5 separate regions of the Homo sapiens genome follow, and regions 1, 2, 4 and 5 are each linked to region 3. Evidence: fine-mapped expression QTL. A gene starts in region 3. Each other region holds a variant in brackets. All regions are shown on one strand. Distances are between the middles of the regions.

Region 1 (5,000 bases), 150 kb before region 3:
AAGGAAATGTTAAATTAAGTCACACACTGACCTCTGAACATAAGATGGTTGTAGAGCCTTTTACTCTAGACCTTTATCTAAATACCATGTATAGTAAAAAAAAAAAAAAAAAAAAAGTAGCTCCAGAAGCATAAGCGGCCCATGCAAGGCTTCCGTTTTGCTTTTAACTGTCCTTCCCTCATGCTTGCAGCAGAGCACACCCTGGAACGCGGTCCCGCAGCTGTGGGCCGCCCGGCACAGCCTCGGCCTCCCTCTGAATGGGTAAGGCAGCCTGCAGGAAGGGCAGGGGGATGGCTTGTCGACTCACATGCTCTGTGCTCTGCCAAGCAACCCCCGGCCTGAGCTGGGATTTCTCCAGGGCAAAAAGATTCTCCCGCCACCCTATCACTCCATTGGCCTTAGAAGTAGCAGGCAGCGGAGACAGCAAATCTAGAGTGAAGCTCGCTCCTTCTACAGAAGGGCCAGGAATGCAGCATCTCTTCCTTCCACTTAGTGCTCAGAGAGGCTCTGCTTGCCAAAGAGCCAGCTGAATCCCAAGCAAAGATGAGGAGAAAAGACTTGAGCCCAAATCCTCTGCAGACTGCACATAGCACACGTAACAAAACTGGGCAAGGGTCTCCCTTAGCCGTGGGCCCATGCAGCTAGGAACCCAGTCCCCAGAGATTGAGGCAGTGACCGAAAGCTTTGGCAACCAATAACTGCTTCATTTCCCACCAGGTTCAGAATGAACTATTTACAGGTGGGAAGGACAGCATTAAGTCATGATGCTAGAAAGCCCTCTGCTCCTCCAGCTCCAAGCCAGATTGGTCACACTCCCTACCTCAGCCACGTGCACTTCATAGCTCCGTGGGGTGGCGACATAGACTGGCAGTTACCTGGTACTTCAACACCCTCTGCTTGAGACACTCAGCCAGCTCCTTGGCCCTGGGCTCAGCAACACAGGCCCCAGAGGGAGCTGGAGAGGATGGCTGTAAGCACCGCCCCTCAGAAGGAAGCAAGAGGGAGACTCAGTAGCCCCCTGGGGGGCAGAGCAGTCAGAGCCAAGGGGAGGAGTGGGGGACTGGGTAGGACTGGGTAGAGGTGGGGCAGAGAGGGCAAGTACACATGCAGGGTTATGGAGGTTAGGGAGGTTATGGAGGTTAGGGAGCTTATGGAGGTTAGGGAGGTTAAGGAGGTTAGGGAAGTTATGGAGGTTAGGGAGGTTAGGGAAGTTATGGAGGTTAGGGAGGTTAGGGAGGTTATGGAGGTTAGGGAGGTTAGGGAGGTTATGGAGGTTAGGGAGGTTAGGGAGGTTAGGGAGGTTATGGAGGTTAGGGAGGTTAGGGAGGTTATGGAGGTTAGGGAGGTTAGGGAGGTTATGGAGGTTATGGAGGTTAGGGAGGTTATGGAGGTTAGGGAGGTTAGGGAGGTGAGGGAGGTTATGGAGGTTATGGAGGTTATGGAGGTTAGGGAGGTTATGGAGGTTAGGGAGGTTATGGAGGTTAGGGAAGTTATGGAGGTTATGGAGGTTAGGGAGGTTATGGAGGTTAGGGAGGTTATGGAGGTTAGGGAGGTTATGGAGGTTAGGGAGGTTATGGAGGTTAGGGAGGTTAGGGAAGTTATGGAGGTTAGGGAGGTTATGGAGGTTATGGAGGTTAGGGAGGTTATGGAGGTTAGGGAGGTTAGGGAGGTTAGGGAAGTTATGGAGGTTAGGGAGGTTATGGAGGTTAGGGAGGTTATGGAGGTTAGGGAGGTTAGGGAGGTTATGGAGGTTAGGGAGGTTAGGGAGGTTATGGAGGTTAGGGAGGTGAGGGAGGTTATGGAGGTTAGGGAGGTTAGGGAAGTTATGGAGGTTAGGGAGATTATGGAGGTGAGGGAGGTTATGGAGGTTAGGGAGATTATGGAGGTTAGGGAGGTTATGGAGGTTAGGGAGGTTATGGAGGTTAGGGAGGTTAGGGAGGTGAGGGAGGTTATGGAGGTGAGGGAGGTTATGGAGGTTAGGGAGGTTAGGGAAGTTATGGAGGTTAGGGAGGTTATGGAGGATGGCAGCAGAGTCCAAGAAAAGAACTTAAGTAGTGTCCTCAAAAGTATCCAGCCTGGAGCCCTGCACTGAGGAGTGCAGAAACCAGTTCAGAGGGAAAAAGAGAGAAACATCTCTGCAAGCCTTATTGCCTCCTGAGCTCAAAAACCCTAACTCATCCCCTCTCTGCACCACAGCCCTAAACTTCAAATTGTTTCTCACTGCCAATCTCTCCTATTCAACATGCTCCCCTCCCTTCTTCTTTTTTTTGAGAC[C/T]GAGTCTGATTCTGTCGCCCTGGCTCTGTCGCCCAGGCTGGAGTGCAGTGGCGCGATCTTGGCTCACTGCAAGCTCTGCCTCCTGGGTTGATGCCATTCTCCTGCCTCAGCCTCCCCAGTGGCGGAGACTACAGGCACCCGCCACCATGCCTGGCTAATTTTTTTGTATTTTCAGTAGAGACAGGTTTTCACTGTGTTAGCCAGGATGGTCTCGATCTCCTGACCTCGTGATCTGCCTGCCTCGGCCTCCCAAAGTGCTGGGATTACAGGCCTGAGCCACCGCACCCGGCCTTCCCCTCCCTTCTTCTTTTAGGCGCTGTTTCATTAAACATTATCAGCATCTCATTAAATACACAATCTGCAAAATGGAGGGCACTGCCCTGCTCAGTGAAAAGGGCTGCTTTCCTTTTTGAGGGGACACAGCCTGGGAAGAAGAGAGAAAGAGGCTGGGCACACAGCGCCGTGGGAGAGCAGCCCCAGAAAGGGTGAGCACCGTGGGGCGAGGCCATGGAAAGGGGGTGGGAAAGACCCCCACCTCCAGCCCAGTCTCCACTCTCCGACCCAGCACCAGGTTCAGGCAGCACACACATTGCCCGCTGCTAGCCTGGTGAGAGGGCGCAGGAAGATGGCACTATGATTAGCTCCTATCGGGTCCGAGGGGTAACCTAATTTACTGCTTGGCCATAACTGCATTTCTCAGAGAGCAAAGGCAGAAGGGAGTTAGAAACCAAAATGGCTTTTGTGAGATTAACAACTAGAGATGATTCTTCCCGCTAGCTGCAGAGCTGTACCCACTTGGAGATCTTTAAGGGTAGGAATAACAAGAACAAAAGTTTCATAAAGTAAGCCGGCTTCTTTAACTGGGCATCTCGGCTATCCCTCACATTGTACGATGGCCAGCTGCAATCAGTAATTTCTCCCCTCAGTGTTTCAGAAAAGACTAAAGCTTTCCACGGGTACAGCCCCATTTTGCCATCACCTACCTTTCTCCCCCTCATTCTCATCCCACTGGAAAAATCCTCACGCTGGTAAGAGCTTTGGCTCTCTTAGGATTTCCACTTCAAGATCCGTGACTGCTGAATGCCACTTGAATACTGATTTAGACCCTCTCCCTAAGAAGTTGTATCTGACAGTCCAATGCTACTACTCTACCACTGGCACATAGTTTGGGGGTAGAAATAGTATGGTCTTGGAAGGGGAACAGTGGGCAGAAATGGGAAGTCATTAAGGCCCTTTACAATACGCACATTTAGGATCAGCATCCCATCTGAATGCCAGATGGGTGACTGCTTTACAGTGAATGCTATTTGCATTGGTCAACACTGCTAGCAAAAAGAATTCTGGCTCTTGGCTGGGTGACAAGAGCGTGCAAAAAGCAAGGGGAGGGGGCCGTCCCCCATATCCCTTCCCGCTGCCCCACCACCACAGCGTGCCCCGTGTGCTTGGCTCTCAGCATCCCATGCCACGGGTTCATGCTCTTTTACCCTCTCATGGTGGGGGCTCTGCTTGCCACGGTTGTCAGCATCAAGATCCCTGTATGTCTGTTGGCAACAAAGTAGAAACTTAAGCTCCATGCATATCGCTCTATTTGGACCTACTAAACGACAGTGGGAAATTCAGGGGCAGAAATGCAGAGTTCAACACATATCGCCTTCCCCTACTAACCCCATCCCCAGGTAACCATAATCCCATCTGTATCAAATCCCATGACACAAGGCCGACTTTCTGCACAGCCATTCCACCCCCCACTGGCCTCCGACGAGGCCAGCTACACGGATCAATGAAGAACTATGGTTAGTACAAAGGTGGAACAAGCATATTTCTTTCACACAGTGGCATAAGATCAGAGGCATCAAATGGAAGGTTTAGAAGGAGAGGCAGGTTAAAAGGGTGACACATTCCACAACAAGACATTTTAGAAAGCAAAGGTGGGGAGGTGGGAATTGGCTAGAATAAATGACTAAGACAGCAGTCCAGAGGAAACTCCAGAGTGGGAAGTGGTTCCTGAATAGGAGCATCGGGCCAAAGCATAATTTACTAAAGGGAGAAGTGAATGTGTTTTTGGCGAATGGACGGGAAGGTATATGTGAAAGGGTAAAGACCTGCAGGTAGGGACATGGCCTTGCTCATCCGAGGAGCCAGAAGCGGCAATCACAGGACCAGGGAAGGCTCCTCGCATTACTCTCTGGCTGGCTAAGGGTTCACCTTACAGCCACGTGCGGGTGGAAAAACAGCCCCAAGGCCTCTGACGTGGCTGCTCCTATCTAGCACCCGTGAGCATAATGTCTCTGTGGGCAGAGGGAGGCCAGAGCGTAGCCCCGGTCCCACAAGCCAGATTCGAGTCTGGCTGCATTGCTTACTATGCGGCTCAGACACGTGACATGGCCTCTCCACTCTATACTTCAGTCTCCTCCCTGGTAAAACGGAGCCAGTAACAGCACCTGCCTCACAGGGTTACTGTGAGAACTGACGGAGACACAGCTTGAGAAGAACTGAGCGTGCTTTCCAGGCGACAGCGGACGCTGAGGACGGCTAGCTCTTGTGTAGATGAAGGCACCCAGCAGCTGCTCAACCTGCAACGGCTCAGTTCTGAGAACCATGGACACAGGTGGGGCCTTTAAAATCAGTCACGTTAATACGGTCACACTTTAAACAGGCCACCCTAGGTGGGAAAATGTCTTTCCATAGATCCTGCTCTTGAAACTCACATTTTATAGAAACATACC
Region 2 (5,547 bases), 20 kb before region 3:
GAGGCGGGGGCTTCCTCGCGCCCCGCCGGCCGGACGCAGGGTTATAAGCGCAGCCGGAAGGAGGCGCCCGCGCCGCGGCGGCTCCCGGCTTCGGCACTGCCCGGGCGGGAGGCTCGGCGCGCGTCCGCTCGCGGGGCCACCCGCTCCAGAACCGCCCGCCGGAACCAGCCCGGTGCCCGAGACCCCGAGCTCGGGCGCGAGCAGGATGCGGCTCCCCGGGGACGGTTGGCGCGGGTCGGAGTCCCGAAGCCCCGTTCTTACCTCTGCCTCATACTGCGGTGTCCCTCGGCGCCGGCGTCGCTGTGGCGGGCCAGTGCCGCCCTGTTCCGCAGCCCGAGCGTCCGGCGCGGTAGGTAGCAGCCGGAGAAGCGGCGCAGCCGGGGGATGGGCGGGCACATGGAAGGGCGGGGGTTGTGGCCCTCGGGCCGGACCACGGGACCCCAGCCTCGGGGGCGAGATATCTCAGTACACCTCGAAAACTGGCAAGCGGCCCCCGTCCTCAGGGACTCCATTGCTACTTGCACGCTCAGTCTTGCCAGAATCTCACGGGATATGTGCAAAAGGCAAAGAAATAAGCTGTCGCCACGCCCTTCGTCCTCTCCGTCCCCCTGCAGGATCCATATGGTACATTCCTCAAAGCCCAACGGGAGACGGGAAAGAACTGATTGGTTGGGAATCTTGGAAGGGGCGAGAAGCCACATGAAGTGGCCAATGGAGAAACCCGGTGGGCATATCAAAGCCTGCCCCCGGAGAGAAGAGAGGATGTATTTAAAGGGGACTTGTTGGCCGGGCGCGGTGGCTAACGCCTGTAATCCCAACACTTTGGGGAGCCGAGGCATGCGGATCACTTGAGGTCAAGAGTTCAAGACCAGCCGGGCCAACATGATGAAACCCTGACTCTACTGAAAATACAAAAATTAGCCGGGCGTGGTTGCACGGGCCTGTAGTCCCAGCTACTCTGGAGGCTGAGGCAGGAGAATCACTTGAACCCGGGAGGCGGAAGTTGCAGTGAGCCGAGATGGTGCCACTGCACTACAGCCTGGGCAACAGAGCGAGACTCCATCTAAAGAAAGAAAAAATAATAATAAAGGAGACTTGTTTGTTGCTCTTAGTTGCCGCAAAATGAAACTAGGATTTTCATTCTAGTTGGGAAGCAAAGAGGTTAGGGGGAATTTCAAATTTTTGGAGGAGGGCGCTAAGAGAAAATATAGAGCAGAGGGCGGGCGCGGTGGCACACGCCTGTAATCCCAGCACTTTGGGAGGGAGGCCGAGGCGAGCAGATCACAAGGTCAGGAGCTCGAGGCCGGCCTTACCAACATGGTGAAACCCCGTCTCTACTAAAAATACAAAAAATAGCCAGGCATGGTGGCGCGCGTCTGTAATCTCAGCTACTTAGGAGGCTGAGGCAGGAGAATCGCTTGAACCCAGGAGGCGGAGGTTGAACTGAGCCCAGATCGTGCCATTGCACTCCAGCCTGGACAACAGAGTGAGCCTCTGTCTAAAAAAAAGAAAACGAAAATATAGAGCGAATTGAACCAAATATATCTTGTATGACCTTGAGCAGGTAAGTACAACCCTCGGCCTCAGTTTCATCATCTGGTCCAATGAGGATACTGGAATGCACTTGGTGTCTGATGGCCTTCACACACTTCATGTGTGATCCTATCATCCTTTGCACAGGAATAGCAATACCTGCAAATATTCTTCAACTTTGAGCATTATCCACTATCTTAAAGAACTTTAGGCTGGGCGCGGTGGCTCACGCCTATAATCCCAGCACTTTGGGAGGCCAAGGCAGGCAGATCACGAGGTCAGGAGATCCAGACCATCCTGGATAACACGGTGAAACCCCATCTCTACTAAAGATACAAAAACAAAATTAGCTGGGCGTGGTGGTGGGCGCCTGTAGTCCCAGCTACTCAGGAGGCTGAGGCAGGATAATGGTGTGAACTCGGGAGGCGGAGCTTTCAGTGAGCCAAGATTGCACCACTGCACTCCAGCCTGGGCAACAGAGCAAGACTCCATCTCAAAAAAAAAAAAAAAAGAACTTTAGTTGAAAGTCGATAGACTTTCTGACACCTACTTTCAGCGACAGTATCAACCCCACCTTTGGTAAAGATGAATCCTGTCTTCTTTCTGGGTCCCTCATCTCTTAGAGAAGAATATTCTTCTTATGTGTGGGGCCCTCCACCTCCAAGTAGTTCATAATTTCTACTTCTCCAGGAAGCACCCCTTTCTCTTCCTTCTCCCTTCCTTCTCATAATCAGACAAAACTTCGATTAATAATTCATTCACCCAATGAGCTGTCCACAATTCCTGCCTTCAGCAACAAACCCCACTGCTCACCCCTCCCTAGAGCTGCGAAAGTGCTCGTCCCTAACTCAATCTGTGACAACCATTCAACCACACATGGCCAATTGTGCTTTCATCCACACTACAAGCCAAATTTCAGACTTTCTAACCACTCCTTGGGGTCTGCTCTGTTTTAGAGCTTTACACCAGCCTGCTAGGCTTACAAT[T/C]TGGCTACCAAGCTTCAGCTCCATCTTCTTTAGTTCAGAACTTTTCAACCTCCCAACAGCTGGTCACCCCACTGCCACTCAACCAGCTTCCAATCACGCAGGGAGTCTGGGATACCCTTTCTTTATTTTTTTTTTTTTAAGATGGAGTCTCGCTGTGTTGCAAGTCTGGAGTGCGGTGGTGCCATCTCAGCTCACTGCAACCTCCGCCTCCCGGGTTCAACTGATTCTCCTGCCTCAGCCTCCCAAGTAGCTGGGACCACAGATACCTGCCACCACACCTGGCTAATTTTTGTATTTTTAGTAGAGACAGGGTTTCGCCATGTTGGCCAGGATGGTCTCGATCTCCTGACCCTGTGATGTGCCTGCCTCGGCCTCCCAGAGTGCTGGGATTACAGGCATGAGCCACTGCGCCTGGCCCCTGGGATAGCCTTTCTAATACCTCCAGATAACTCATCTTCCAACTATAATCCAAAGAGCTCTGGAAAGTGCATCCCTCCATGAAGCCTTCCAGATTGATTGCCAGAAGCTGCTAGCTTACAGAGCTTCCATTTCTACTCTGTGCCTTGCCATAACCCAACTGTCCATGCTCTCTGCCCCAATATACATTTCTTTTTTTTTTTTTTCTTTTTCTTTTGAGACTGAGTTTCGTTCTTGTTGCCCAGGCTGGAGTGCATGATCTCGGCTCACCACAAACTCCGCCTCCTGGGTTCAAGCGATTCTCCTGCCTCAGCCTCCCGAGTAGCTGGGATTACAGGCATGCGCCAACACGCCCAGCTAATTTTGTATTTTTAGTAGGGACGGGGTTTCTCCATGTTGGTCAGGCTGGTCTTGAAATCCCAACCTCAGGTGATCCACCCGCCTCGGCCTCCCAAAGTGCTGGGATTATAGGCATGAGCCGCCGTGCCCGGCCAATATACATTTCTTATTGACATATTTCCCTATCTCCCTGATGGCCACAGCAGCAGCAGCCACAGCTTACATTTATTAAGTGCTCACTATGTGCTAGGTACTGTTGGGAAGTGCTTTGCCCGCATTATTTAACTTCACCCTCATATCAATTCTGTGATGTTCCTTATTATTCGCCTTAGTACCGTTTTGCCTTCCTGAGGAAAACACAAGAGCTTAGTGAAACTGATCTGCCCGAGTGCACACAGAGGTCTGACATCTAGTGCCCCCACCATAACTCCACAACGCAATACTGTCTTGAGTTTCTTAAGAATCTACTGCATGCCAGATGAAAGATAATCTCATATATTTACTTATTTATTTTTATTTTTATTTTGTTTTTTTTTATTTTTTTTGAGGCAGAGTCACACTCTGTCACCCAGGCTGGAGTACAGTGGCGCAATCTCGGCTCACTGCAACCTCTGCCTCCTGATTTCAAGCGATTCTCATGCCTCAGCCTCCCAAGTAGCTGAGATTACAGGCTCGTGCCACCACGCTTGGCTAATTTTTATATTTTTAGTAGAGATGGGGGTTTCGCTATCTTGGCCAGGCTGGTCTCGAACTCCTGACCTCAGGTGATCCACCTGCCTCGACTTCCTAAAGTGCTGGGGTTACAGGCGTGAGCCACTACGCCAGGCCTCATACATTTATATTATGTTTACATTTATTTCTATACCTATAATATCATTTCAGTCTCAAAACAGTCATGTGAGGAGAGTTGGTAGAAGTCTATTCACAGATGAGGAAGGAAACTACAGCTCAGAGAGCATGACCGTTTGGCTAAGGTAGCAAGGCTGGTAAGTAACTGAGCCTGGCTTTCCACACTGCATTCTTTCCATTGCAATTCCTGCCCCCTGCGTGAACACAACCTTTTTACATGTAACAACCAGAGAAGGAGGAAACAAATACAAAATAGCAAAACCTAAGCCACAGGGTTTAGGGAGTGTGGTACAAGGAGTGCTTACAGGGGGCCAGAAAACAAGTCAAAGAAGACTTCTATGAAGGGTGAGATCACTGTGGACTTCTTTATACTGGTTTGTTGTTTATATTCTGCCCATGAGAGTGTGTCTTGGACACATCTGGCAGATTCAATAGCAAAAGGCCACAAAACTGCCCCGTACCGCTGGAGTGCTGGTGGCTAGAATTAGCCCCATGTCAATGAAGAAGGGACTTCTGTGTGCAATGCTGCTGCCGACCAGTTTGGGAAAGTTCTCAACTGGCTGTTTAGCAAACTATCCTGCTCCACCGGCAGTTTTAACACTCCCCTGCAAATACAGGCTGGGCTCATTATTTCTTCTTTTTCAACTGTTGACATCCTCACAGGGTTGGAGAGCCTAGCAAAATTGTGTGGGAGCAGCAAACTTTTAATATTGATTAAGCAGCCTGAACAAGGTGATTGTGAGGCCAATACTTCTGAGTTGTTCTTTGCCAGGTCCAGCCATAGTCAATCAAGTTAATTCTCACTCCCATAGCTCTCTCTTTTCTCATCCCCAGAGAGCTCTAAAATGTCTCTGCTTATCTGAGTGCTTTCTTTATGCATTCAAACATTTATTGGGCACCCACTACAAGCAAAGAACTGGCAGCTTGTGTGGGGTTATCCTGATGGATCCGCACATGAAGTGTGTACTTAGTGCATGGGGTGATTAAATATCAGACCCCCTTCCGTAAGGAAGGAATCTGCCTGAGAACCTCAGAGAGTGCAAGTGGATCCCATCTACGGCGAAATGTAGGTGCTCACGTTGGGAAGTCTGCCCCCCTAGTAGGAGAAGGAGCACTAGGTTGAGAAATGGCCCTGGGTTGGGGAGATGGGCAGTGTCCTGCGGAGGTGGAGAGTGCCCAGAAATAACTGGACACTTAGTAAACAATAGGGAGAATCATCTAATTCAATCCGCAATGGAGCCGGTAGAAGATTTGTGGAATATGCTATCTTATTTTCAATTTAAAAAATATTTTCTGGGCTGGTGACGGTGGCTCATGCCTCTAATCTCAGCAGTTTGGGAGGTCGAGAAGGGCAGATCACCTGAGGTCAGGAGTTTGAGACCAGCCTGACCAACATGGAGAAACCCCGTCTCTACTAAAAATA
Region 3 (5,979 bases):
CTGGCAGCCCTCACATGGCTGGCCTGCCCTGTCTCGTGAGATGGATCAGCCTTGAGGTGACCTGTCAGGAAAGGACATTTGGGCTGGAAGTAGCAGAAGCCTCTGTGAGCCATCCTTCATGCAGAACTAGTCAGGAGCAGCTCCCGCTCAGCCAAGAGAGTGAAGCATGCCCATCGCCCAGCTCAGCCAGGTAAGTACTAGGGAAACCTGTGGGAGGCCCAGGTGAAATGAAGGCATTGTCTCAAGAGGTCAGGCTGACTCCAGGAAGGAACAAAATGATGCATGCATGGCTATGCACAGACTAGAAAAGCAAAGACTAAAGGGAAGGATGGAAGTTGTTCTAACTGTTTTGGGTTGCTTGGAGGGAGTGGGGCATGGGAGAGGGAGGGAGTGTGTAGTCAGTGCGTGGGAATGCAGAAAGGAGCATGCAGAGACAAGCAATCTGGTAGGCCATGTGGGAGACTGTGGCCATTCTATGGTAGGGAGACCCTTCCTGGCCACTCCCTCAGTGGCCCTGGCACATTAAGCTTTGTTGTCCACATTGGGTGGGTTGTGTATGCTTTAAACAACATCTTAATCCCCTTGCCTATTTATGAGGTGTATGACTGAGCCGTGCCCAAGAGTTTCAGAAGATATGGTACCATCATTTATACCTATCTCGCAGGAGATCTTAACCCCTTCTCTACTTAACCCAAATGAAAGCGAGGTCATTAGGAAGCTGTGCCTGGTGAAGTTCTGGCACCAGGTGGGTAGATCACATTTTCTAGTTTATGTAAAATTTTAACATTTCAGACCCCCAGTTTTAAGACCTTATCTAATTTCCTTGAGCCCCTTAGTCATTGTGAACTCGCTGTGGAGTGTCTGCCTCCACCTGCCTTGGTGTTTATGAACATTCATGGTAACTTTAGAAGGCAAGGGTTAGAGGAAACTTTTTGCCGCCCACCCCCAGTCTGCAACAGTACCTGTGGGGAAGATTTTACCCTGGGACTCCAATTTTCAGGGAGAGGAAGTTTCTAGGATTTCCCATAGGCTTACGAGGGACTCGCCATGTGGAAGGATTTTAGGCCTGAGAAGGATAATAACACTTTATAATTTCTAGGTGATCTTATTTGTTGCCTCTTCCTTCTCCAGAGTGACTACTGCATTCCGACCTGCACCCCCACCCTTTTTTTTTTCTTTTGAGACAGAGTCTTACTCTGTCACCCAGGCTGGAGTGCAGTGGTGTGATCTTGGCTCACTGCAACCTCCACCTCCCTGGCTCAAGCTATTCTCATGCCTCAGCCTCCCGAGTAGCTGGGACTACAGGCATGCACCACCACACCTGGTTAATTTTTGTATTTTTAGTAGAGACTGAGTTTCACTATGTTGGCCAGGCTGGTCTCCAACTCCTGGCCCCAAGTGATCTGCCTACCTCGGGCTCCCAAAGTGCTGGGATTACAGGCCTGAGCCTCTGCGCCCAGCCCCCTCTTCTGCTTTCTAAGTGTCCATTCTCCTTGTAGTGAGTGGGTGGTGGGGGGATATACACATGTGACTCTGGTTAGTACATAGGCAGCCATGAAGTCCACAAATGTACAGGGAGCCACAGCTTTCATGCTACAGACTTGCAAAGGTATGCATCTGCTTTCCCCTTGCCCTGGAATATAGATCAGAACACTTCATTTAGTGAAGGGACCTGTTCCGAGAGTGATGATCCCTCCCTCGTTTGAGACACTGCCTTCATCCTGAGCTTCTTGGAGCAGCCCAAGGCCCTGCCAGCTCTCTTTGCCTGTAGCTTGTAGGCATTTATGACAGTTGCATACCCTGCCCTCCAACGGCAGCCTGAGAGACTGAACTATTACCAAGTTCACCTGGAAAAATGTCACCCTGATTGATTAGAATGGTGGGTGGCCATCTTAGCTCATTAGAATCACCTGGGAAGTTAAAAAAAAAAAATCCAGTATGCACTCCAAATTTTCCCACCACCACTCCTCCCCACAAAAAGAAAATTTAAAAAATCCCAGTGTTTGGGCCATATCCCAGACCAATTAAGTCAGAATCTCCAGGGATTGGACCCAGGTAGCAGGATTTCTAAAAATCTCCCCAGCAGCCAGGCCTGAGAGCTAATGAATAGCACCACAGGGCCCAGCCTTTCAGCCTACAGCTTGTCTCGGTTTCACCCTTTTTTCATTTCTTTACAATGAAAATTCTAAATAGTTGATCACAGTGCCAGACCAATAAGAAAGCATTTTAGGGAGGAGAGAGGAGGGAAGGGGTTGGCAGGCACGGAGAGGACTTGACACACAGAAAGCATTTTGCTATGGAGTCATAACCATTTGATTCTAAGACACATGCAGCCTCCAGAAGTCATGCGGCCCCGCCCTCTGCTTCCAGGAGGGAATGAACTTGGCCGTCCTTTTGTTGCACACGCCCGGGAGCTGCGCCGGCGCAGCGCGCCCTGCAGCCTGGGAGCGCAAGCGTGTGCGCCACTGGTCCTGGGCCACCACCGCGCGCCGCGGGCGGGTGCAGGGCCCCTCTGCCGCAGGGAAACCGGCGTTCCCCGCGCAAAGCAGCCGCTGCTCCTAATGAGCTCATGGGTTCACCGCGCTGAGCTAGCCAGAGCGGACCCGGCTTCGCCAAGGGCCTGCTGGCTGTCCTGACACCTGGCCTACCTCGGGGGTGCCTGGGTACGCTCTTCCTTTGCCTGCGGGATAGAAGCACAATGAAAATGGGGTGGACGTGGCTGGGAGACAGCCCTGCTCTCTGGCAGGCTCTGGGGAGTGTGTGGTACGTGGCATCCGCACTGGTGGGTGTCGTGCGATGATCGAGACACGGATACTGGGTGTCTTTCCCACTAGGGGAGAGAGGGCTGCGTTTAGAGGGAAACGAAATAGATCCGAGAAACACAAAGATGTCACAAAGGAAACGCTTCCCCACCATAAGCAATCTAAATAAATGATTCTTAGAAGACATCCAGCAAAACACATAACCTTGTCATTTAGATTCGCTCGCCCACAGGGGGACTGGAGGGTACTCACCGACTAGGGCTTCACAGCCGCATCACCGCCGGCGGTGGGCGCCTGCCTCGGCAGGGGCAGGGTGGGTGCCCGCAGGGCACAGGTGCCGCCGTGGCTGCTCGCACAACCCCTGCAGCTGCGATCCCGCCCAGTTAGCCTCGGGGGCTGCACAGCCCAGCCCCCTCGCCCAGGGCCCAGGGGTTCTCAGGCCGCGCGGCGAGGACGGAGGGCTGCCCCGGGTGCCTGCCTACGCGGGCGCTCCCCGCCGGGACTCCGCCGGGGCTGCAGGAGCGCGCGCTGCTGGCTGGGCGGGCTGCGGCTCCGCGCGAGCGCCGTGGCAACGCGAGCGGGCGCCCCCAGGAGGCCGCGGAGCTGCGGCGTGGGACGCTTGGGTGAGGCTCAAGCCAAAACCAAACCCAAACCATTTCTCCTCCTCCCCATCTTTTCATTTTCTCCCCTTCTTTTCATTTTCTCCCCTTCTCCAACCCCTTCCTCGACACACGTTACTAGCACCTCGAAGGTTGGAAATTCCAGCACTCTCCTGAGGCCTCTTCCCCAGCGAATCCTGCTAACCACGCAGTCGGTGTTCGCTGTGTGTTCGAGCACACACCTCCTTGCAGTGGCTTCAGCACCCAGGTCTCCGGGAGCCAGTGAAGGAACCAAGTGTTGGATACTGAGCAAGTCGCGTAACATCTGAGTAGTCGTGAAATTGAAATTTCAACGGTATAAAGGACACGACGTTGTCTTACAGATTGAAAAATGCTATAAAATGAAGTTCTTACTGTTACTATGATGATGACCCTGGAGATCAGCGCAGAGCCCTGGGGGAGGGCTACAGTTGCAAGCGCTCCAAGGATCAGATCGCGCACTCCTCCCCACCGGAGAAAACCTCTTGATGCCGGAGCCCGGGCAGCCTCTTCCACACTTCCAGCCAGCCCCTTCCACACTTCCAGCCAGCCCCGGCATTGCCACAGCCCGTGGAGCTGGACAGAAATCCACCAGGCACTAAAATAAGTTAGATGGAAGACGGGATGGATTTGACCAAATTCCTATCAGCATCTGCTCAGTATAATTGCAACATTATAATCAGAGCAGAAAGAAGCCCAGAGATTATTTTGTCTTCAAGGATCATTGGCCTCAGTATTATCTCCATCTGAAGCTGTGTTGTCCAAAGCAGATTGACTCCAGCCGGCCAGCTCAGAAGAGGGCCGACTCTGGGCTGGCGACTCCTTGAGAAGGGCTCTCTCTGGTCCCAGGTGGTATTTACTTAACCGTATCATCATCTGCTTCATTCGTGTTCCCTTCATGTCCATCATGTGAGGACGGGAACTGACAGGGCCAGGGTGTCGGCTCAGAGGCAATCTCTGCTCATCCTCTAGAGCCCCACTTCATCACCCAGCCACTCTGTCCACTGTCTCCCCACCTACAAACCTGCAGGTGTTCTGCCCCAGTACTAGAATAAGGGAACACATTTTTACTGAGCTCTGACAATGTGACTGGGCTTTTCAGGAGCTATTTCATTTAATTTTTAATGTAAAACATTGTTTTACATATTAAGAACCTAAAAGCACAAACAGTAAGTAACTTGCTTGTGGAAGCTTATGCAGCGAGATAAGTGGTAAAGCTGCAATTCCCAGTTTTGTTTGATGCCACAGCTGAAGGTGCAAGGCCATCTGGGCACGGCCTGAGTGGATATTAGGGAAAAATGCCCTAAAAGGTCCAGAATCTCTAATAATTTCTCCTACTTCTCATTTTATTTTATTTTTGACGCTGGAGTTTTTTTTTTTTTTTTGAGTCAGGATCTTGCTCTATTGCCCAGGCTGGAGGGCAGTGGTGCAATTTCAGCTCACTGCAACCTCTGCCTCCCAAGTTCAAGCGATTCTCCTGCCTCAGCCTCCTGCATAGCTGGGACTACAGGCATGCACCACCATACCCAGCTAATTTTTGTGGAGATGGGGTTTTGCCACATGGCCCAGGCTGGTCTCAAACTCCTGAGCTCAAGCGATCTGCCCTCATCAGCCTCCCAAAGTGCTGGGATAACAGGCATGAGCCACTGCACTAGGCGAAAACGTTTATTTTAGAAAAACTGAAAAATATAGAAACATAAAGGAAGAAAAGCATTCATAATCTCATCACCTAGAGAAAGCCATTAGTAATATTCATATTTCTTTCCAGTCTTTTTTCTAGCTTTCTAGCTTTAAACTAAGTTGAGATAAAACCACACACACACACACACAGACACACAAGTGCATCCTGCTTTTTGTTAAAAATAACTTTGTGGGAAATTCTTCCTCCTTTGAGGATTTTTAAAAAACATTAATTTAAATGTCATACAATATTTTTATCATATGAATATCTCATAATTTCCCTTTTATTGAATATTTCCAACTTTTATTGATTGTAAATAATGGCAATAAAATTTTTTCTTCATAAATCTTGCTCCTATGTGTGAATAATTTCCTTCCAGGTGAGTCCCAGAAGTGGAATATTGAGTCCAAGGGTATTAACATTTTAAAGACTTTCCAATCCTCTCCAATGGGGATATCCAACTCACCCAGCCCCGTTCCCCACAGGACCTGCACGGTCCCACTCCACTGCCCTCCACACATCTGTTGTGCCCTCACCTGGTATATAGCATTTAAATTATTTAGCTCACAAACTCTTTGGGAAACTAGGGTTAGTTCTTTGTAGCTTTTTGGTTGATTATTTTGATTTACTCAGAAAAACGCAGTATCTCCTTTACTATTTTAAAATCCTCAATAAGTAAGAATAGGGAGAGAAAATAAGAGAAAGGGGTGAGCTTTCCAAGGCCCTGGGTTAAGCCAGGGATGCCGGAGCTTGGAGCTCACTTGATACTGACCCTGCTGATGGCCTCAGCCTCAGTCCTGCTATAGAAAAGCTGCCCTGTCCCTCTGATCCTCACGTTTTAATCTCAGCATTTACTGCTGATGGGATGATTGGGTAAATTGAAAAACTTGTCAGAGAG
Region 4 (5,979 bases), 97 kb before region 3:
ACAGCCAAACCATATCACCATCCTTATGGGAAGGCCACCAAAGGACACCGTCAGTCCTCTCACAAATCCTGGAGAGCTCTGTGTCTGCAGTCAAGCTCCACAGACTCCAACTCACCAGGGCACAGCCAGCGGATCAGGCACATCTCACCCCTCGGACCAGTTCAGGTACAGATTAAATATACCGCCTTGAGAAATACCACTCACTGGGGCAAGGAAAAGCCAATGTACTCTGTTCAACTTAAATAAATATTTGATATAGATACAGGTTGGGCATCTCAAATCTGTAAATCCAAAACTGGAAATATTCCAAAATCTCAATGTTTTTGAGCATCAACAGGACACTCAAAGGAAACACTCAATGGAGCATTTCTGATGGCAGATTTTCCAATTAGGGATGCTCAACTGGTAGGTATAGTGCAAATATTCTAAAACCTGAAAAAAATATGAAATCCAAAACACATCTGATCCCAAGCATTTCAGAAGAGATATTCAACCTGTGCTAAACACCATGGACGTACTTTGTTAAAGGACCTTAATTAAGCAACCCTGTATTTCAGAAGACCTGCAACCAGAAGCCCCAGAGCATCTCAAGCCACAGTGTGAGAACAGCAGGTATTTCATAAACATTGCTGCAGGATGACATAGTAACATGCCCACAATAGCTCCAGTGCTCTGACCTTCCTTCCTCAGGGCAACTCAACCCACTGTTCACAGTAAGCTTCCATCCCTGCTGGCAACAGGTATTTCTTTATAACAACACAACAATGGCCTAACACACCCTGCAAACTGGGTGCCAACAGAACAATGAAATTGACCAAATAGCAACGGGGGGAAAGAGTCCTGGGATCCGAATAAGCCACAAACTGGATATTGGGCTCTGGATCCTGGAGAGCTACCCTCTGGCCAGAAACCAAAATGGGCTTGGCTCATTCCTGGTAAATATTCCAACCACACTAGGTGCCGAGCACCTGAGAGAGCAAGGGGAAGGGAGCCAGGTGAGAGCCACAAGCTGTACCAAGTTCCTGACATCAGGACCTCTGAAGGGCTCGGCCAGGAAACCAAAGGACTCAGAGCAGGGCTTCTGGCTCCCCAAAAACCACCACCAGGCCAGAAAAACATACTGTTCTCAGGACTGGAGGGCATGTTTTTCTATACCACTTGATTGCAGTATAACTTACAGACAATAAGAGTCACCCGTTTTCAGTGTACAATCAGTGATTTTTAGTAAATCTGCCAACTTGTGCAACCATCACCCTGGAGGGGATATTTAATATCTCCCAAACCTGAAGACGATTATGGTTCAGTCAGTTTTACGAGGAATGTGAAAAAAGAAGTTGATATCTACTTGTTGCTGCCAATTCAGCAACACGAAGGGAGCTCAGAGCAGGCAGAAAGCTGAGGAGGTCACAGCTATCTTGCCTCTGCCTGAAAAGCATTCATCTGGGCTTGGCTGGAGGACCTGGAAACTTAAACAATTTTTTTTTAAGTAACTCTTGTTGAGAATAGTGCTTCTCAAACTAAAATGAAGAACCCGTTCATCTGTCCATGTTTTCCCGGCACCCCTCCTTCCACAGTGTCGGAAGGGTACTACTGCACAAATCTCTCTTCACCATGACAGATCTTAGCACCACAGCCAAGGCATCAAACACGTTTCAGTTAAATCCTCAAACAGGCATTGTCCCTTCCTCCTGACAGCTGGGTGCTTTCAAAAATACTGTACAAAATGACAGGCTGTGAGTCCCAAACCCAAACATTTTCTAAATCACTGATCAAAGAAATAAAATAAAATTTATGAAAAAAAATGTTTTGACTTGGAAAACATAAACGCACAGGCATTTTAAGTGATGGTATCCATGGGACTGTAAGGTCTTACTGATGTCTTTCATCTTGACCTTGATGCTGGTCAAAGCTCTCAATTTTTCTTCATCAGTAGAACATGAGCAAAGATGCAATGAAAGGACAGTGGAATCAACAAAGCAGAACTGGTTAGAAGACTAAAGGTCTACAACTTCCCGATATACAATCCAACTTCCCTGAGTCCATTTCACCATCCTCAACCTTGGCATTCCAGGACGTCTGTGCCCTCCCAACAACAGCCTGGCTTGGAAAAGGAATATCCCAGGGGAGAAGCGTGAATCTGTAGAGTAACCGAAAAGCAAACCTGGTGGAGAACAAAGGATTATATAGCTGAACTCTCCTGCCCTGGTTTCTCTGTGCATGCTCCTCCGGCTTTTTATGCCACTTTCTAAGTAAAGAGGATGCTCAGGGCTCTGTCCTTGGCCCTCTTTCTATTTTGTTCTAGCACCATCTTTGTAACTGTCCCCTGGACATCTCCATCAGAATATGCCAGGGCATACATATTCTGCTCCAACTCAGGTTACTCAAAATAGAACCCCATCTTCCTTCCCAAACTTATGTCTCTCCCTGAATCTCAATTCTAGTAAAACTGCCATCTACCTAAGTCAGAACTCCAGGTGTTGGCCTCCACACCGCTCCTACTTCCCACTGCAAAAGGCCGGAGGCGTGGGCGTGCAGGCAACTGTACCATGCTAAGCATGGTGGGGAGGCAGCACAGTGCAGGGTATATTCGCATTTGCTCTTCCTAAATTCCTCGCCCATTTATTCCTTCCTTTCTAACGTCACTGCATTGGACTTCATTATCTCTACCTGGACCCTTGCAATAGTCTCTTAAATGTAGACCCTTCTTCAAGGTAATTTTGGTTTATTTTCTTATTGTGTTAAGATATATATAACATAAAAGTTGTTTTTAACCATTTTTAATTGTACAATTCAGTGGTATTAAATCCATTCACAATGTTGCACAACCAT[C/T]GCCACTGTCTATCTCCAGAACTTTTTTGTCATCCGCAACAGAAACTCTGTACCCATTAAACACTGGCTCCCCATTTCCCCTTCCTCAGCCCATGGTTGTCACCATTCTACTCTGGCTCTATGAATCTGTCTATTCCAGGTACCTCATATAAGTAGAATCATGTATTTGTCTCTCTGTGTCTGGCTTATTTCACTTAGTATAAGGGCTTCAAGGTTCATCCACATTGTAACATATACCATGACCTCATTCATTTTTATGGCTGAATAATAATTCCATTGTAGTCCACATTGCATTTAGTTTCTCCATTCACCCATCAATGGACAACTGGGCTGTTTCTACCTTCTGACTACTGTGCACAATGCTGCCATAAACATGGGGACACAAATACACCCTGCTCAAGTGTGCAATTCCCATACTATGTTTCTTCCAAAGTGATCTTTCTAAACAAATCTACTTAAGCCACCCCCTTGCTTACACTTTGAAAGACACCATTTCTCTACCAGGCTAACCTTGGGGCTGCAGGTCCTGCTTCACCTCCACCCTCATCACCTTAACCTCCCAACACCCCTGTACTCAGCCCCCGACATCTGCCTGCTGCTCCAGGAACACCCATGTTCTTTCCAGCACAGTTTCTTTTCACAGCCTAGAACACACTTTCCCCACCCGTGCACACACTTCTCTGAACCTCTGCTTGTCCTCTGAGCTGCTTCAGTCTTCTCTGAACTAAGGCAGATGACAAATATGAACCTCCTCATCCATCGGGGCTTTAGGGCCACATCTCCAAGCCCTTCTCAGAACAACTTTGCCCTTCCCTTCTTCCTACACCCAGATCTTACCTCTGTTCTCCAAGCACCTCCCACCAGGTGCTGGGCTCCTACAAGACAGCAAGTGGCTCTGCGTCTGGTTTCTATTCCCAGCATTTAGCAGCGCCAGAACCACAACACACACTCAGATCTTTGGGGAGTGAATTAAAGGTTTGGCTTCTGACTGTATACTCTGAGCACTCGAGATAAATTGGGTTTTATTTACATGTGTCTTGCCATACTTTACTATATGCAGCATAGCGTGGTGGACACATTCACCCACTGCAGGAACGCTACCTGATGCGAGGAATAGTACTGTTAGAAACACCTGTCCGTGGGCCGGGCGCGGTGGCTCATGCCTGTAATCCCAGCACTTTGGGAGGCCGAGGCGGGCGCATCACGAGGTCAGGAGATCGAGACCATCCTGGCTAACACGGTGAAACCCCGCCTCTACTAAAAATACAAAAAATTAGCGGGGCGTGGTGGCGGGCATCTGTAGTCCCAGCTACTCAGGAGGCTGAGGCAGGAGAATGGCGTGAACCCGGGAGGCGGAGCTTGCAGTGAGCCAAGATTGCACCACTGCACACCAGCCTGGGCGAAACAGCAAGACTCCGTCTCAAAAAAAAAGAAAGAAAGAAAGAAAGAAAGAAACACCTGTCTGCATGCGTCTTCATGTAGTGTATGAGATATATCTAGTGTGGTGAACACATTCACTCACTGAGATAAGACTACTGTGATTCACATGTGCAAGGAGCACTTAAGAAACATAAAGCCAACTTTACGTAATGCAGTACATGCACCACGCTTTGGTGGACACATTCACTCCTTGAAATAACACTGCCCTGATACGATGAACAACCAGAACACTTAGATGTTTCATACCGTGGCTTTATATATTGTGTTACATGCCCCATAGGGGGGTGACCATAATCACTGTAATGACACAACCCTGATGTGACAAATGACTGGCACCCTTAGAACTTTTTTTTCTTAAGACGGAGTCTCACTCTGTCACCCAGGCTGGAGTGCAGTGTCGTGATCTCCGCTCACTGCAAGCTCCACCTCCCGGGTTCACGCCTTTCTCCTGCCTCAGCCTCCCAAGTAGCTGGGACTACAGGCGCCCGCCACCACGCCTGGCTAATTTTTGTATTTTTAGTAGAGATGGGGTTTCACTGTGTTAGCCAGGATGGTCTCGAACTCCTGACCTTGTGATCTGCCCGCCTCGGCCTCCCAAAGTGCTGGGATTACAAGCATGAGCCACGGTGCCCGGCCCTTTTTTTTTTTTTTCCTTTTTTAAAGAAAGAGTCTCCCTCTGTCTGCCAGGCTGGAGTGTAGTGATGCCATCATAGCTCACCGTAACCTCAAACTCCTGGGTCAAACAATTCCCCCTACCTCAGCCTCCCAAGTAGATGGAACTACAGATGTGCACCACCACGCCTGGCTAATTTTTTTTTTTTTTTTTTTTAGAGGCAAAGTCTAGTTCTGTTGCACAGGCTAATCTCAAACTCCTGGCTTCAAGCAATCCTCCTGTCCTGGTCTCTCCAAGTGCTAGGATTAAGAGGCATGAGCCACCATGCCCAGCCTCCAATATTTTGTTTTTAAAACCATGTGTAAGTTGGGTTATTTAACTTCCAATTCCTGAAAAAAGACCGATAAGTAACAACATTTTTTCCAAAGGCTCCCCTCTGTAAACAGGCCTGAAACCCATCTGTGCTCTATTTCATTTTTCTTTCTTTCCTTTTCTTTTCTTTTTTTTTTTTTTTTTTTGACAGGGTCTTGCTCTGTTGCCCAGGTTGGAGTGCAGTGGCGCTATCTCGGCTCACTGCTACCTCCGCCTCCCGGGTTCATGCCATTCTCCTGCCTCAGCCTCTTGAGTAGCTGGGACTACAGATGCCCGCCACCACGCCTGGCTAATTTTTTGTATTTTTAGTAGAGACAGGGTTTCACCTGATGCCCAGGCTGGTCTCGAACTCCTGACCTCAGGTGATCCACCCGCCTTGGCCTCCCAAAGTGCTGGGATTACAGGCGTGAGCCACTGCGCCCGGCCTCTATGCTCCATTTCAGAAGGAATAAACCTCTTTAAAGCAAAAGGGCTATGTGTAACCAAGAAAACTCTCATATCTGGAATGTAGAAAAATTCTGTATAAACCAATACGGAAAAAAACAGACACCAAAGGAAAAACGGGCAGAAGATTTGATCAGGCATATCACAAAAGAGGACACTCAAATCACCAAGGCATGTGAACAGGTGTTTAACATATTAGTCACAGGAAGTCCATCAAAACCATAATGAGATCCTATCACCCATCAGAATAACTAAAATTAAAGACTGACAATGCCACGAGT
Region 5 (5,979 bases), 110 kb before region 3:
AATGTCCGCACACCTACGTCCAGTGAGTCTGCTGGACAGAGGCTGGGAGGTGGGAGATGGCACCGCGTGTACTCCTGCACCCACCGGCTCCTGTGAGTCTGCAGAATCGTTTTTGCGTCACATCTGATGAAACCTCACCACTGGAACTGTATTGGAAGGTGGGAGGCAAAAGGACAAAGGACAAAACTAGTGAGTAGAGAGTGGGTCAGGGTGACAAGACGAGTGTGACCACAGGGCTGAGCCCACACAGCCAGACCCCAGCTGCACGACCCCGCTGCACAACTCTGGGTAAGCACTGTTGCACGAACCCTCAGTTTCCTTGTGTGTAAGACAAGGAGGTTAGACAGCGCCCCTAAGACTTTCTTTTTTTCTTTTTTTTGAGATGGAGTCTCGCTTTGTTGCCCAGGCTGGAATACAGTGGTGCGATCTCTGCTCACTGCAAGCTCCACCTCCTGGGTTCACTCCGTTCTCCTGCCTCAGCCTCCCAAGTAGCTGGGACTACAGGCACCCGCCACCACGCCCGGCTAATTTTTTGTATTTTTAGTAGAGACGGGGTTTCATCGTGTTAGCCAGGATGGTCTCAATCTCCTGACCTCGTGATCTGCCCGCCTCGGCCTCCCAAAGTGCTGGGATTACAGGTGTGAGCCTGGCCAAGACTTTCACTTCTGAAGTTCTCCAAGGCTACTGCTGAGAAATCCACATGCCCACAGCACTTGCTCCTGGTGCTCTCATCACAATGGCCCAGCACAGGCACATCACCAATTCACCACGAGAGTGACCAACACAACTGGACTGGACTTTGCTTTAAAGATGTACCCTTGGGGTTGGGTGCAGACAGAGGAAGGGAGTGGTTGATGCACTACGTTCAGCAGGCATGTAGAAGCAAGAGACTGCCCACTATTCAGCTGCAGGTGCTGCTGAAACCAACTCTTGGAAGACAGGCACCATGTTCCAGAATGATACAGAAGAGGCCCTGAAGCTCTTACTTTGGGTAAGCACACTGAGCAGCAGTGTGAAGTAGAAATGACATGCCACTTCTCTCCGCACCTCACCATGGTATCACAGGATTAAACCAAACCAAATGAGATGCATCTTAAGTTTCATGAGAGAAAGTTGTAACTAAATACAAGGAACTGCCCTCTCCACCTTATATTTTCTATGTCAACAGACACAACACTCGTCACATAATGTGGAGGATACATTGCAGATGGAACACACTGGCTGGGCTTTTCGCCTCAAATATATCACGTACTCAACAAACCCTCCTGGCTCTAGATATTAAAAACTATACTGCTGGCCCAGTGTGGTGGCTCATGCCTGTAATCCCAGCACTTTGGGAGGCCGAGGTGGGTGAATCACTTGAGGTCAGGAGTTCAAGACCAGCCTGGCCAACATGATGAAACCCTATCTCTACCAAAAAATACAAAAATTAGCCAGGTGTGGTGGCACACGCCTGTAATCCCAGCTATTCAGGAGGCTGAGGCATGACAATTGCTTGAATTCGGGAGGCGGAGCTTGCAGTGAACTGAGATTGTGCCACTGCACTCCAGCCTCAGCGACAGAGTGAGACCCTGTCTCAAAACAAAACAAAACAAAAACAATACACTGTTAACACACATAGCTTCTCTCAATAGCCACATGGCCAAGAGGCCAGCAAGAAATGGAGTTAACTGGAATTAACATTCAGTTTCCCCAAAAAAGAAAGGTTTTATTCTAGGTAGCAGCAAGAGAAATACTTTACAGTTCCTAAAAAGGGCCCATTATTTATCTTACAAGCCAAGGCTTATCTTAGAAATGTTAGAAAGTCAAAAGATGGCTTGTAGGGCAGGAAAGAGCAGATGTGCTTATGTGAAGGCAGGAGAAATGGTGACAGCTGACAACCCATGACTAGAAACAAAGGTCCCACACCATTTTCTACATCAGGGACCCTCTTTGCCTCCTGACCTCTTTGTGGGACTTCTGAGGCTTCACTTGCTCTTTGACAAGCACACAGCATGGCACAATCCTGACCCTGTGTGCCCTGCCTGCATTCACAGTCAACCTGAACTCCACCAGAGTCACAGTGTTTGGTAAGCTTTGCATACACTGGGTCTGATCCACCGCTACCTCATGTCAAAGAAGAAAATGACTTTTCTTTGTTTCTAAACAGTAGCCACTTTCAACTCCTTGCCAGGATTCAGAGCACTCAGAACCATGACATTCTTGCTGAAGCCAATACATTAAAGGTCCTGCAACCCATAACTCCAAAATCCTTCCCGTCATAGCGCCTGCCTTGGCTTACACCTACCCTGAAAGAGGGTCTTGGGCACTTATTTCCCAAGAAGAGTTCTTACGTGTGAGCTAACAACCCCATGGCTGGTTGTCACCCACTCGGTTTGAAATAATTCACTTCCAAAGAGCTGCTAACCGCCACAAAGAATTTCCAAATCAAACCCCACTACAGAGGAACGGCTTCACTAATAACTGTCCCCAATCCTTCTGCTAGTGAAAACACTTTTAAATTAACAGATGTCAGCCACAGCTCCCAGAGAGCTGCAGAGCCAACCAGCAGGCAAGTTTTAATTCCCCGGCCGAAGAGATTTCGACCTGCAGGGCACTGGTGACAATGGATGAACAGAGGCAGGATGGCTCCTGGAACAATGCGACCGGCACCCAAGGTAAGACGACACAAGATGAATTCCCTTGGGCTGCCTCACTTTTCCTGCTTTGCAGCTGAATGATGACTGCAGCGCAAAGACTCCTCCAGAGTGTGACAGCATTGCTCTGTGGCTCTGCTGGGCTGGGCCTGTCTCACTCTGCAAGGGGCTTACCCGGCATTCTCCTTGGCTCTGACAACAGCCGGGAAGCACAGCAGAGCAGGGCTATTTCTGTTACCGCCCCCATTTCCCTCATTCCTTAAGGTCAAAGCCAGATCATGCTCCTCCTGGCCTGTCCTGCACCACCCTGTGTACAGTTCATAATCACAGGAACCTGGAGACCAGGAAACCTGGCAGGAAGGTGCCAGAAATCCCAGAAACTGAAAAGCCAAGGTGTGCAAGGAAGGGGTAGAGGAAGTGAGGAGCCGGGTTGGGGGCTGGGGGAGGAAGAGGAGGTGATGCCAGGTTTCCAGGCATCTGTGAGTCTCTGCCAGCTGACTCCAGCCTGCATGTTTTGTCCGCAGCAGCTGACTGCTGACTCAGAAGCCCCGCATGGGCCTTGGCTGTGGAGGATGGCACTGCAG[A/G]GACGGCCTCTGAAGCACACGCAGGACATGGTTATGTTTCTATTTATAACAATAGTTGAAGGTTGTCACTGACTTCTGGCTGGCTATGAGAACACTCAATCTCTAGCTCTTAGAAGAGGTAGCTGGATGTTTGTGGGGGAGTAGAAAGGAGAATCATGTTTAAAAATAGAAAAAAAAAAAGAAACAAAACAACAAAAAAGAATGACACTTCAAGAGTATGGCATCAGAGTGAAGCTTAGTTTTCTCCCTAGCCAATGCACCATGAACACACCAGCGAACGTGCAAATTTCTGAATCTTACACAGCAATCTGTGAACTGCGCCTTCCCCTAGCCCATTCAGTCAGAGGTATGTCTCATCTAAACAGATCTTGAAAGCGGGTGGAAGGCCAGGTGAGGTGGCTCATGCCTGTAATCCCAGCACTTTAGGAGGCCAAGGTAGGAAGATCACTTGAGCCCAGGAGTTCAAGACCAGCCTGGGCAAGACGGTGAGATCCTGTCTCTTCAAAAACAAAAAAATTAGCTGGGTGTGGTGGCATTCGCCTGTGGTCCCATCTACATGCGAGGCTGAGGTGGGAGGATTGCTTGAGCCCAGGAGGTCGAAGCTGCAGTGAGCCATGATCATGCCACTGCACTCCAGCCTGGGAAACAGAGCAAGATCCTGTCTCAAAAACCAAAAAAAGAAAAAAGTAGGTGGAGAGGAACACTTGATCATATTTTCCCTCAGAAACCAGGACCCAAATCGCCAACATGCCTCGGGCTCCTGATCTGTCTTCCTTCAACATAGGCAACTTAGCATCATTATTTGAAAAGCCTGTCCTTTCCGTACTGAGTAGTCCTGGTATCCTTGTCAAAAATAATTTGACCGTAAGTGAGGTGCATGAGGCTGAAGCAGGAGGATTATTTGATCCTCCCAGGAGCTAGACTCCAGCCTGGGCAACATAGCAAGACCCCATCTCTTAACAAAACATAGTTTGACCATATATGTTAGGGTATGTTTCTGGGCCCTCTATTGTATTCCATTGGTTTATATGTCTGCCTTTATGTCAGTACCACACTGTTTTGATTAGTATAGCTTTATAGTAAGTTTTGAAATCAGGAGGCATGAGTCCTCCAGCTTTGGTCTCCTTTAGAAGGGCTGTTTTGGCTATTCAGGGTCCCTTGAGATTCCATGTAAATTTTAGGATGGGTTTTTCTATTTCTGTAAAAAAAAAAAAAAAATCATTGGGATTTTGATAGGGATTACACTGAATGTGTATTGTTTGGGTAATTGTGACATCTTAACAATAGTAAGTCTTCCAACCCATAAGCGTGAATTTGTTCTCATTTATCTTTTAATTTATTCCAGTGATGTTTTTTAGTTTTCACTGTACAAGGCTTTCACCTCCTTGGCTAATTCCTAAGTGTTTTATTATTTTTGATGCTACTGTAGACAATTATTTTCATCATTTCCTTTTCAGACTGTTCACTATTAGTATATAAAAATGTAACTGATTTTTGTGTATTAACTTTGTATCCTGCTACTTTGTTGGATTTATGTACTAGCCTTGAACAGGTTTTTCTGGTGGAATCTGTAGGATTTTCTACACATAAGATCATATCATCTACAAATGGAGATAACTGTCTTCCTTTCCAATTTGGATGCCTTTTAATTTCTTTTTCTGGCCTAACTGCTCTGGATAGAACTTCAGGATTATGTTGGATAGAAGAGGCAAAAGTGGGCATCTTTGTCTTGTTCCTGATCATACGAGGAAAAGCTTTCTGTCTCTCACTGTTGAACATAACACGTACCATGGTTTTTCGCATATGGCTTTTACTAGGTGAAGGTAATTTTCTTCTATTCCTAGTCTGGTGAGTATTTCTATCATGAGAAGGTATTGAATCCACATGTATTGCATCCTGGGATCTATCCTGACTCTCCATCCTATTTATCATCAAGCTGACACTCAGCAGGATGGAGAGGAAACATGAAGCCAGCTCCTCCCCCCACCACTGTGCCCTTCCCCTCTCCTGCCTGTCACCCGGCTGCACTCCTCATCTGCTCCTGCCACTCTGCAAGGACATTATTTAAATGTCTCTCTCCTCCATTGTGAACTTCCTTAGGGCAGGGACTGGGTCTCTGCGCTATAACCCGACCTGGAGTAGAAATAAGTCGTGTTTCTGTGGAGGTGACGAGGGTAGGATGGAGCCCAGCAGCTCTGTACTTGAAGGACCGGTCCTGGGGAAAGCACTAGCCTGGCCTGCGTGGCTGCGGAAGGTGAAGGAGACCTGGACACATGTTAGAGAAAGACTTCCAATGTGCTACCAAAACGTGGTATCCAGGAATGCAACAGTCAGCCTGGGCGGGCAGTGACAGTCTAACAGGAACACTGCAAGAGTGTGGCATTTTTCTCATGACCAGCACTCTGCTTGGCTGGGTGTGGATGACCCCTCTCTAGAGGCATCTGAGAAGAGCCAGACCCAGATAGCCTCTGGGTTCTCTTCCAAGTCCCTAATCCTGCAGGACTGTAGTACAGTCCTAACACTTATGTTGTATCTTTTCTAATTTTCATTTCTATTCTTTGCTAACAACCTATTTCTTCATGAAAACCAAGTTAAGAACATCCACGCAGCTGAGAAATGAAGTAAGTCAGAAGTGACCTGACCTCTGCCTTGCAGTTCTGTCACCCCAAACACATTAAAATGTCTGAATCATAGCGAGGCACCCAATAAACACAATCACTGATGATGACGTCAACTCACGTTCAAAGTAACCCCCAAAA

Alleles and levels. Alleles are on the strand shown, and positions count from the first base shown. SD is a standard deviation of normalised expression in the study named. Not every link is listed here.
For the expression in left ventricle of the gene that starts at base 3,295 in region 3, C is the low allele of the variant in region 1 and T is the other (moderate effect, 0.41 SD a copy in GTEx).
With allele A in place of G in region 5, the expression in spinal cord of the gene that starts at base 3,295 in region 3 is lower (small effect, 0.39 SD a copy in GTEx).

Evidence for each region. PIP is the estimated chance that this variant, and not a neighbour inherited with it, causes the effect.
Region 1: its variant is the best candidate, but not a certain one, in a credible set for the expression of MICAL3 in left ventricle (GTEx, PIP 0.73).
Region 2: its variant is the best candidate, but not a certain one, in a credible set for the expression of MICAL3 in whole blood (INTERVAL, PIP 0.70).
Region 4: its variant is the best candidate, but not a certain one, in a credible set for the expression of MICAL3 in whole blood (TOPMed, PIP 0.59).
Region 5: its variant is the best candidate, but not a certain one, in a credible set for the expression of MICAL3 in spinal cord (GTEx, PIP 0.80).

Annotation. Positions count from the first base shown.
Region 1 is chr22:17,875,588-17,880,587 of GRCh38, forward strand. All of the region lies in intron 16 of MICAL3 (microtubule associated monooxygenase, calponin and LIM domain containing 3), which reads right to left. Among named protein-coding and RNA genes, the nearest start is that of LINC00528, 100 kb to the left of the region's middle. The variant C/T (reference allele first, on the strand shown) is at 2,275.
Region 2 is chr22:18,001,132-18,006,678 of GRCh38, forward strand. All of the region lies in intron 1 of MICAL3 (microtubule associated monooxygenase, calponin and LIM domain containing 3), which reads right to left. Among named protein-coding and RNA genes, the nearest start is that of MICAL3, 21 kb to the right of the region's middle. RefSeq lists silencers at 1-34, 45-424 and an enhancer at 360-1,056. The variant T/C (reference allele first, on the strand shown) is at 2,520.
Region 3 is chr22:18,021,267-18,027,245 of GRCh38, forward strand. MICAL3 (microtubule associated monooxygenase, calponin and LIM domain containing 3) reads right to left here and starts at 3,295. Exons shown (of 32, transcript NM_015241.3): 1 at 3,015-3,295. RefSeq lists a silencer at 3,023-3,432.
Region 4 is chr22:17,924,188-17,930,166 of GRCh38, forward strand. All of the region lies in intron 1 of MICAL3 (microtubule associated monooxygenase, calponin and LIM domain containing 3), which reads right to left. Among named protein-coding and RNA genes, the nearest start is that of MIR648, 54 kb to the right of the region's middle. The variant C/T (reference allele first, on the strand shown) is at 2,830.
Region 5 is chr22:17,907,947-17,913,925 of GRCh38, forward strand. The region is part of intron 1 of MICAL3 (microtubule associated monooxygenase, calponin and LIM domain containing 3); the gene reads right to left. Among named protein-coding and RNA genes, the nearest start is that of MIR648, 70 kb to the right of the region's middle. RefSeq lists a silencer at 2,577-2,871 and enhancers at 3,068-3,117, 3,128-3,397. The variant A/G (reference allele first, on the strand shown) is at 3,221.